2 separate regions of the Homo sapiens genome follow, and region 2 is linked to region 1. A link means that fine-mapping ties the variant in region 1 to the expression of a gene that starts in the linked region. Tissue or cell type: whole blood. Region 1 holds a variant in brackets; the other region holds the start of a gene. Each region is shown on its reference strand, or each on the opposite one.

Region 1 (5,373 bases):
ATGGTTTTACTTTTTCGATGAACATTTTTTGTATTTTCCTTGCCCTCAGCCAGAATCAGCAGCTCTGGGCTCTGTACCTGATGGAGTGACTCAAACCTTCCTTCTGAAGGGATCTTGGTCCTCCATTTTCCTGCCTTTTTTCTACGGTAATTTTTTGTTAACCTTTCTAAGTGGTATGGAAGTGCTAGGAGGTTCTAGACATCATTCTTTTTGCCTCAGTTGTATAGTAGTACCCCAGTTTCCCTTTGGTAGTTGAGATTAATCCCTTCAGTTAATAGATTATACCCTCTCACCTCCTTATTTTTCTTTTTCTTCTTGGTTTAATGGATATGAAACTTATAAGGGCCAGATGTTAATCTCACTTTCCAGTGTATTGGGACCAAATAAATAGTTGCCCCTGGGGAAGCATTCCCCATTATGGACTCAGATCTCCAAATTACAGTGCTCTACATTGCTGGGATTGGAAGCAAAATTTTTGTCTTAGAGCTAATTCTGCCTTCACCCATCAATTCCTGGGCCTGTTTGTTCTGACTGTGGTGAGATAGTAGTATCTAGTGATCTCTGATTCAGAGCATACACTGTGTCTTGTGAAACAGAATCCCATTCTTTCAGAGGTTGTCTCCCAGTTGGCCCTGTATCTGAATTTTCAGTAAGCTATTTCACCTTTCATTTAGACTAGCTGCTTCTGAGTGATGGGGTGTGTGATGAGACCAGCTGATGAGAGGGACATGTTCCCACTGTTGCACTTCCTTTGCAGTGAAATGGGTTCCTTGATGAAAGATGGTATTGTGTGAATGCTGTGACTGCAGTGAAAGCATTTTGTGAGTGCATGGATTATGCATTGTATAGGCAAAAGCCTAGTGGATTTGCCTCTCCTCTGTACAAATCTGCCTCTATACAAATCCTATATGGATTTGCCTCTCTACTAGTTAGGCTTCTGGCAAATCCATATCCAGAACACGAGTCTATTCCAGTGAAGATGAATCTTAGTCACCTTCATGATAGGAGTGGTCCAATGTAATCATCTTGCCACCAGCTGGCTCCCCTGGTTACTCTAGAAATTAATGCCCTTGGTTCAAGACTAACCTGGGCAACATGGTGAAACCCCATCTCTATGAAAACAAAAAATCAACCCCCCTACGAAAACCACCCAGATTAGCCAGGCTTGATGATACATGCCTGTAGTCCTAGCTACTCAGGAGCATGAGGCAGAAAGATTGCTTGAGCCCAGGAGATTGAGGCTGCAGTGAGCTGTGATCATGCCACTGCACTCCAGCCTGGGTGACAGAGTGAGACCTGTCCCCCCCCCAAAAGAAAAGAAAAAAGAAATTAATGCCCTTATATATTCAGTTTTGGTTTTTGCTTTTAGCAGATTAGGCACCTAGCAGTAGCATTAGCTGCATTAGCTTTGGTAAATGGAAGTCCATACTGTTGAGCCATAGTAGCCTTTATCCCTGTTTTTTTTTTTTTTTTTTTTGAGACGGAGTCTCGCTCTGTCGCCCAGGCTGGAGTGCAGTGGCAGGATCTCGGCTCACTGCAACCTCTGCCTCCCAGGTCCAAGCGATTCTCCTGTCTCAGCCTCCTGAGTAGCTGGGACTACAGACGCGTGCCACCACACCCAGCTAATTTTTTGTATTTTTAGTAGAGATGGGGTTTCACCATGTTAGCCAGGATAGTCTCAATCTCCTGACCTCATGATCTGCCAGCCTCAGCCTCCCAAAGTGCTGGGATTACAGGTGTGAGCCACCATGCCTGGCCAAGAATCTTATAGGTCTGCCAAGTGTTGCACCTAATTTTGGGGAGCACTAACTAGGAATGACACCTTGGAGGGGATATCTTGATATGGTCTAGACAACTGAACCCACAAATCTTTGTTGATTGGATGGGGCATGGTGGCTCAGGCCTGTAACTCTAACACTTTGGGAGGCCAAGGCAGGCAGATTGCTTGAGGCCAGGAGTTCGAGACCAGCCTGGCCAACATAGTGAGATCCCATCTATACCAAAAAAGATTAAAAGAAAAAAAATTACCTGGTGTAGTAATGTGCACCTGTCGTCCCAGATGCTTGGGAGGCTGAGGTGGGAGGATCACTTGAGCCTAGAAGGTGGAGGTTGTGGTGAGCCGTGATCACACCACTGCACTCCAGCCTGGGCAACAGAGCAAGACCCTGTCTCAAAAAAACAAAACAAAACCAACTTTGTTTATTTAGCTGGCTCTTGAATCTCCCATCCTCTACTTTGTAGCCTGTAAAGGTATCCAAACTATTTACTGTTTCCTGTTCATGGGATATCATGTACAAAATATTTTCAATGTGATGGAGTGTTGCAATGTTTTGTGTAATAGCAAAACCTCTGAAGACTATTTCGGTGGAAAACAGGAGAATTGATATAAGTTATGATAGTCCCCCGTAATTCTCCAAAGTCGATGTGACTTCTGCACAATCCTGAGTGGTGTGTTACCTAGGTCTGGTGATTGGGTGAGAGACTTTGAATCTCCCCTGTGGTGACTCTTATCAGGTTTTTGGCCATTAGACTTGAGACTTCTTGTTACATAGATCAAGCAATATTCCAAGACTTACATTGGCAAACTGTGGCTTATGGGACACACCTAATCTTCAACCTGTTTTTGTAAATTATAATTGGAACAGAACAACTATGTTCATTTGTTTATATATTTTCTGAGGCTTCTTTCATACTACAAGGACAGAGTTGAGTATTTGTAACAGAGACTGTGTGGCCCACAGAGTATAACATTTACTATATGTCACATTACAACAAGATTTATTAATCCCTGTTATAGTAGGGTTCTTATCTGTTTCATGCTAG[T/G]GACGAAATGTGATCAGTTTGCTAACACCAATAATCTCTGCAGGCCAAAGCATTCCAATTATTGGTACATTCAGTGTGCCCTTGACATTCGATGTGGCCTCATTGTCTTTGATAGTTAAGTGCTACCCACTTGGTTTTTGGCACTCAAGGTTCTCATCATCCCCATTGAAACAGGGAACTCATCTTAATGATTGTTATCTCCTGTAGTCTTAACAAATGTTTAAAGGAGAATAAACAGAACTTTTCAAGAATGGAAGTATTCCCTTCAGTTATCTATTTCTGAATGCCTTTGTGAAGAGGGTGTCTTCTGGGCCCTTAATGTAGGTTGAAGAAGGGAAGCTGTGCAGATCACATGTGATAAATTCAGTGCAACCTTCCTGTGTGTCTAGGATTCCCTCCTTTACATTAGCCAGGGAAGCTCTTACATATTAACTCTGTTAACTAGGTCATGAGTACAAGTTTCAATCATCCAACCAGTTTAGCTATTAGAATCATGCCATGGTCCATTAGCTAATATGTAAAATTCAAAATGTCTAGTAAGTACCTGTATTAGGCTATTCTCACATTGCTATAAAGAAATACAAGAGACTGGCCGGGTGCAGTGGCTCACACCTGTAATCCCAGCACTTTGGGAGGCTGAGGTGGGCGGATCATGAGGTCAGGAGATTGAGACCATCCTGGCTAACACAGTGAAACCCTGTCTCTACTGAAAATACAAAAAAATTAGCTGGGCGTGGTGGCAGCTGCCTGTAGTCCCAGCTACTCAGAAGGCTGAGGCAGGAGAATGGTGTGAACCTAGGAGGCGGAGCTTGCGGTGAGCCGAGGTCACGCCACTGCACTCCAGCCTGGGTGACATGTCTCAAAAAAAAAAAAATACATGAGACTGGGTAATTTATAAAGAAGTTCCCGGCCACCCAACTGTCTGGGAAGTGAAGAGCACCTCTGCCTGGCCACCGCCCTGTCTGACAAGTGATGAGCACCTCTGCCCGGCAGCCCCACTGTCTGGAAAGTGAGGAGCATCTCTGCTCAGCTGCCTACCGTCTGGGAAGTGAGGAGCGCCTCTGCTCAGCCACCACACCGTCTGGGAAGTGAGGAGCACCTCTGCCTGGCCACCACCCTGTCTGGGAAGTGAGGAGCGACTCTGTCTGGCCACTGCAGTGTCTAGGAAGTGAGGAGTGCCTCTAACCGGCCGCCGCACTGTCTGGGAAGCGAGGAGCGCCTCTGCCTGGCCGCCCCACTGTCTGGGAAGTGAGGAGCACCTCTGTCGAGCCACTGTGCAAACCTCCAAGTGTGAAGTGACAGCCTTGTGTGTGATCTTTCTGCCCTCTCCAAGTTTGCATTTTCAACATTAAAGTTTATTTTTTAATTAAAAGTTTTAAATTGCAGAATAAAAAAAGTTTAATTGGCTCACAGTTCTGCAGGCTGTACAGGAAGCATAGTGACTTCTGCCTCTGGGGAGGCCTCTGGAAGCTTCCAGTCATGGCAGAAGGTGAAGCAGGAGTAGGTACATCTTATATGGCAGGAGCCAGGAGCAAGGGAGAATGAGGGGGAGGTGCTGTACACTTTTAAATGACCAGATCATGAGGACAGTATCAAAGGAGATGGTGCTAAACCATTCATGAGAAATCTGCCCCCATGATCCAATCATCTCCCACCAGACCTCACCTCCAACACTGGGGACTACAGTTCCACATGAGATTTGGTGGGGACACAGATCCAAACCATATCAGTGCTCCATATCAATGAATTTGGGCCTATCTAATGTTAACATTTTAACCTTCTTGATCTAATACCCTTAGAATCCATCCCATACATGTTCCCTGGGTTTCTTGTGATATATTATCAGAGTTGGAATTTTTTTGTTGTGTGAGCTTTTTTCTCTTGCATTATGTTGTATATCTTTCTCCCTGGATTTTGGACTAGTTAGGACTCTAGTGATAAAAATAAGTGATAATGGTGTGGATCTTGAGGAGAATATATATTACCTTCCAAGGTATCTGGACCAAATGAGATTGTCACAAAAATTTCAAGCAGAAGGCTTTCTCCTCAGAAACCAAAGGGTAAGCTACGTCCCTGGTAAGGGAGGCTCAAAGTGTCTTAGGTTGTGTTAGTCTCTTTATTATTGCTATGACATAATACCTGAGTAATTTATAAAGAAAAGAGGTTTCTTTGGCTCAGGATTCTGCTGGTTGGAAAGTCTAAGAGCATGGCCCCAGCATCTGCTCTACTTCTGATGAGGCTCACGTGTTGCGGCAAAACATGGTAGAGAGGCAGAAGAGGAAGCAGGCTTGTGCAAAAGGGACCAAACACAAACAGCAGCCTTGCTTTATAACAGTTAGCTCCTGTGGGAACTAATTCAGTCCTGTGTGAGCTAAAATTCACTTCTGCCTGGTAGCATTAATCTATTTATGTGAGATCTACCCCCATGACCCAAACATCTCATTAGGCCCCTCCTTCCAGTGCTGTGATATTGAGGACCAAGCCTCAACAGGAGTTGTGATGGGGACAGACCACATCCAAATCATAGTGGGGTTTAAGATCATGTTTCTT
Region 2 (5,373 bases), not on the chromosome of region 1:
CATTGAAAGTCTATTAGTCACAGTGCAAATTTATTTTAAAATTTCAAATATCATCATAGGAAGGCATATGATTTTTATTCTTAACTAAAAGCATCATGGATTTTAAGTTTGAAAAAATACTGTGATAATAGGTGATTTTAAAAATATATGTATTTCAAACCTTTCGTTTTGCAGAGGAGGAGACTGATGCCAAAGAGACAGAGTTAAAGCACCAGTTAATGACATTTCCTTGGCCTTGGTCTCAGAGAATTAGGAAGTACCAAGGAACCCAGGCCTGATTTCTGATTCTAATTAGAAGCAGGGTCAGTCCAGGAGGCCTGTGTTTATCTCTGCAGCAGAAGTTCACTGCATTCTCACTTCTTGCTCGTCCTAGATCTTCTCTGCTGAGTCTTCTGGTCACCTGCTATGTCACCTGCAGTCTGGAGAAGAGGTACTGTCAAGGTGTGGGGTGTGTTTTTCCCTGAGGAGTAACCTTGAACAGTGCACATTGTTTTTACCTTGAAATGAAATTTTAAAGATAAATTTATACATGGGACAGGAATGTTCTGATAACTTGCTGGATTTGTCCTCTAAGAAATTTTGCCCAAAAAGGGGATAGGAAAGGGAGAGGGTTCATTGCTTGGGCAGAAAAGATGTGCACAGGCAAGAATGATTGCATGAGAGTCAATGGTTATTGGTACGTATCAGAACCTTAGATTGGGTAGAATCTCTAAGGTTGTCAGAGCTGTTTGAAATGAGGGCGTATTAGATTCACCCTGGAGCATTGCCTCCCTGGTGGGAGGGAATCCTGGGTGGACAAAGAGAGTTTCTGCTGTGGCTGCCACACTCCACACCTCCCCTGCAGCAGGACACAATCCAGGGCAGCAAACTGGCCCATGGGGTCCGGAGGACCTATGCCAAGATCCATTTCCATCCCAACACCCTTGGATTGTCTCTCTCTGGGAGGGACTGCCAGAGAAGTTAGGGATCTGGAGCTTTGAAAACCACAGAGATATTTAAAATTACAATTTTAGAGAAAGATTTAAAATGATGAAGCACCAACTATTTTTGTTTACAGCCCCTCTTTGCAAATGTGGAGGAAACATGTAGGGATACACATCTTCTTCTCTCTTTTTTCACAAGATGATTCATTTCTCCTAAATTGAGAAATGAGAAAGACTGGGTGGAAGGAGGTTGTGGATTGACATGAAAGAGAAAACTTTTTTAATTCAGAAAAATAGTTCATGTGTTTTCACACACGTGTACATATGTGCATACACACACACACACACACACACACACACACATCCAATCCCCCTGAATATCCCAGTTTCCCCTGCACCTTCCTTGCCCCCCTCCCACTGGCTTCTTAGCCTCCTGTCCCAGAACAACCCCACCAGGCCTGCAGAGCCATCACTGAAAAGGGCATGGCTGTCCTCTAGACTGTAATCCTGAGTCCAGAGGTCTGGCCAAAGATTGGAGGAGCATCCAGGCCTTGACCCCCAGGCCTGCCAGTGTTCCAGGACATTTGCTCACTCATACCCACTCACAATCTTACGTGTACCCCGGTTCCCCGACTGAGAGAACTATGAGGAAGGAGGGGGCAGCTTTTGCCATCACTAAGGTAAAGAGGTGCCAGGCAGCTCTGCTCGGTCCCAGGGCTCACCAACCCTGCCATCATTCCCACCAGTGGACCCCTTCTTAACCACACCCAGGCCCCCATATTGCTGAGGCTATTGATTCCTACAGACCAGGCCAGAGGTCAGCTCAGTCCTGTTCCTTTCTAAGGCCTTTCCACACAGAGATGAAGTCTAGGCCCTCAATGCCCTTCCCCTGAACTCTTCTTCCAAGTTCAAAATCCTCAAGGAGCAAGAAAGAGGGCAGGTGGCTGCGTGTGTGTTCCAGAGGAGAGAGGCGAGGAGTTGCTGTGGAATGGGTTATGTGACAATTTTGTTAGCCTGACAATGCAAGGGTGTGAACGCTATCTGTGTAGAACAGAGGGAATGGCTTCAGGTGCTGCTCAGGATTCTTCCCTGGAAGAGGTCATAGCTGTGGTGAGAAGGTAATAGCATCTTGCCTACAGCCCCGAAAGCAGGCTCTACCTAAAGAATCAGGCATAAAACAGAAGTTCCCTCCTTCCTTTTACAAAAGAAAAGGCTGCTTCCTGGTGAGCAAACCAGGGGAGACAGGGGGCAAGGAGGGCATCCTACAGAGACCATCCCTCTCACTTCTGGTGGTCAGTGACCCAGGAGGACCCAGAGAACCTCATCCTCAGGCTCCTAGGCCTCTGTTCCCCACTCCTCCAATATTTCCAGGCCTGCTGAGTTAGGGCTCAGCTGCCTCCCTCTTCCCTCCGCTGGAAACAGAAGCTCCCAGCGAATGTTTCTAACTCCTGAGTCCACTCAGCCATGTCCCCCTTGCAAAATCCTCCCCTTCCCGCACCCCCCTGCACCCAGCCAGCCAATCCGCGGCCTACGAGCCTCGCCAGACCCATCTCCCAGGGCCTCAGCGGGATAAAACCGGTCGGTGATGCCGGGTGGATGGGAACAAACTTCAGAAGGAGGAGAGACACCGGGCCCAGGGCACCCTCGCGGGCGGACCCAAGCAGTGAGGGCCTGCAGCCGGCCGGCCAGGTATGTCACCCAGGGGTTAGCTGGAAGCTGGCTAGCAGTGAGGACGGGGGATGGAAGAAAGGAGAGGGTCCCAGGATGCCTGGCAGCCTTTTCCCTCCCAAGTTAAACGGGATAAGACTGGGACAGCGGAGGGAGTGGGCACGGAGGTTGGAGTCTGGAGCTTCTTCAGCGCACTCCCAATCCTTGATCCTCCCGGGAAGCCTGTTAGCTAGGCTAGGCTGAGGTTGGCCCTACTTCGCCTAAAAATCCTCCTACTCCTGGCAGACGATGCAGGTGTAAAGGATGAGGCCTGGGGAGGGGGCCTGAGGATGCAGGCATCGAATCTCATCGCATCTCATGCCCTTCTCCTGGGTTTGTGCAGGGCAGCGGCAGGCGCGGCCCGGACCTACGGGAGGAAGCCCCGAGCCCTCGGCGGGCTGCGAGCGACTCCCCGGCGATGCCTCACAACTCCATCAGATCTGGTAAGAACGCGGTGTGGTCAGGATCCCCGAGCCCCCGCGCCGCTGAGCGTCCGTGCGTGCGCTCGGGTGGTTGGATCTCGAGAGCGTCAGCACGGGATTCGCGGGACCCACCCGCGTGGGGACCCAGCTGGGGCGCCTGGGGCCTGGCCCTCCGCTGGAGCCGCCTCGCTGTTCTCGGGCACTGGGGTTCCACCCGGCCAGCTGAGCCGCCCTTGCCCGGTTTCGAGGGACCACATGGATCGGTGAGGGGATCTCTGTGGAGTTAGAGGGGGTTTCCTTTGAGCTCCATTCCCAGCCTTGCATGGCGCATTAGTGTGGACATTCTTCGTGCTCTGTCCCTGGGCTGCACCGGTGCTGGACTTGCCGTTTCCCCGTCCCCGACCTCTAAGTCCTCTTCCTCGGGTGCGCGCAGTCCTTCCCAGTGACTCCCCTGGCTGGACTGTGAGCTCCCCGCATCTCTCAAGCCAACGGCAATGGAGCCGGTGGTCCCGGGCCCGGGAGCCGGCAGCGCACTCAGGTGCTCTCCGACTCCTCCTGGCCCAGCACCGGGCAGGCCGGGCGCCGCGCGCGGGGCGTCCGGCTGGTGAGGACTAAGCCGCTCGCGGAGTCAAAACCCCCTCCCCACCTGCGCCCGGAAGCAGGGCCTTCAAACACACTCGAGCTCCCAGGCCGCGATGCCTGTTTTCCCCCTTCCCGGCCAGGGCTGGGCAGGGTCTTTGCTGGGAAGGAGCTCCAGGGTCAGGGCTGGTGGGCGCAGCCGTCCCGGCGCGCAGCGAGTGCGGACAGCGGTGGAGGCGCAGCGCGGCCCGCAGTGATGGATGGAGCCCGGCCGGCCGCAGAGAAGGCGATTTATGGGGCCAGGGCGCATCGCTATCGATTTGGGCCGGCGAAGTGAGAGGAAATCAATATTTCAGAATGAATTCTCCGCGAATATGATGTCCCGCTCTGCAAACGGGACATTTGTTATAATAAGGAGGGTCGGATCGGGCGCGCAGCGAGGCTGAGATCTCTATTTAGCCAAGCGCACTGCGGGGGCCCGGGCTCTGCGGCGCAGTCTCCAGTCCCAGGGCCATGGCCCAACTAGGAGGGGAGCGGGAACCCCCTGGGGCGCCGGAAGATTTCTCACTCGGGTTCTCTCTAGAGCTGCAGACGAATGCTCCCTCCCGGCCCCCATTCCCCTCAGAGACCTGGGCCAGAATCGTCCGGCTGCCCCCAGAAGGCGCGGGGTCCCTTCAAGGTCCTCAGGGGAGAGACCTCGCAGCCATTCCCCGGCGCGGCGGGGTTGGGGAGCCCTGGGACCGAGCAGAGCTCCCTGGCACCTCTTTACGGTCCGCGTCCTGGAACCACGAGCGCTCCTAGGCCACTATCTAAGGTCAGGATCAGGTTTTAGTCCCTTAATCTTTAGCCAAACCGTGGTACGATACCAGACATCGCCAGGACCATCCCTGAGGCCTAATGTGCAGTGCCCGGTGCCCATGCCAAGCTGGTGCAATGGCACTTCTGCGCCAAGCTGGTGCAATGGCACTTCTGCTCGGCTCTGGAGGTCCATCTTTCCTCCTAACCTTCCCCTGACCCTTCCGGCGGTGGCAGGAGGAGTGAGTGCTCTCGGAAATCAAATTCACTGTGGCCGGGCTGGACCCTTACTCTCTGCCGCTGCCCAAGAAATGAGACGATGTCCCCGTCCCTCAGATGAGCTTTTTTTTTTTTTCGCGGCTACTTATTTTCATTCTAGAAGTACTCGTTAGAATAGATGGAAATAGAGTATGGAAAGAATAAATAAAGGCACAATTTATTTTTACTGTAGTTTTAATCAGGAACAGTCCCAGATGATGAGATGCGCGCTTTCCCACTAGCTTGGATGCAAATCGCGCTTGGGTTTTGGGAGGGAGCCCTCTGCCCCTGGACCTACCAGGTAATTTTTTTCCCCTTTCTTCTTTTCGGGAAGACAGAGGGGCTTCTTCTACCCTCTTTCCAAAACAAATAGACAAAGTGGCGAGGGAGGGAAGATGAGACTTTCTTCTCATAGTTTAATTTAAACGCTAATAAAACAAGAAAATGGCCTATAACCGCATAGACTGCTGAAGGCGCTCCCTGTTTCTTTTCTGAACCCTCCCTCGGCAAACCTGAGGGAGAGGCCGTCTGTCTTTCTGATCAGCTTACCTGACACTGTTGTCTATAACCGGAGCTAAACTCATAAGCGGACCCCTCTGGTTTTTACAAGCCCATTATCTCTCGGGTTTTAGCAGGTTCCCCCTTTTCCCCAGGCACCTCTGTTCCTGAGACCGGCCGTGCTTAGGGAG

Evidence for each region. PIP is the estimated chance that this variant, and not a neighbour inherited with it, causes the effect. A credible set is the group of variants that fine-mapping cannot tell apart.
Region 2: PAX8 starts here. The variant in region 1 is the best candidate, but not a certain one, in a credible set for the expression of PAX8 in whole blood (TOPMed, PIP 0.85).

The regions. Positions count from the first base shown.
Region 1 is chr19:9,487,930-9,493,302 of GRCh38, reverse strand. All of the region lies in intron 2 of ZNF560 (zinc finger protein 560), which reads left to right. Among named protein-coding and RNA genes, the nearest start is that of ZNF560, 8.0 kb to the left of the region's middle. The variant T/G (reference allele first, on the strand shown) is at 2,824.
Region 2 is chr2:113,276,070-113,281,442 of GRCh38, reverse strand. It overlaps PAX8 (paired box 8), which reads left to right and starts at 2,522. Exons shown (of 12, transcript NM_003466.4): 1 at 2,522-2,612; 2 at 2,974-3,073. The coding sequence starts at 3,049. RefSeq lists a promoter at 1,920-3,049.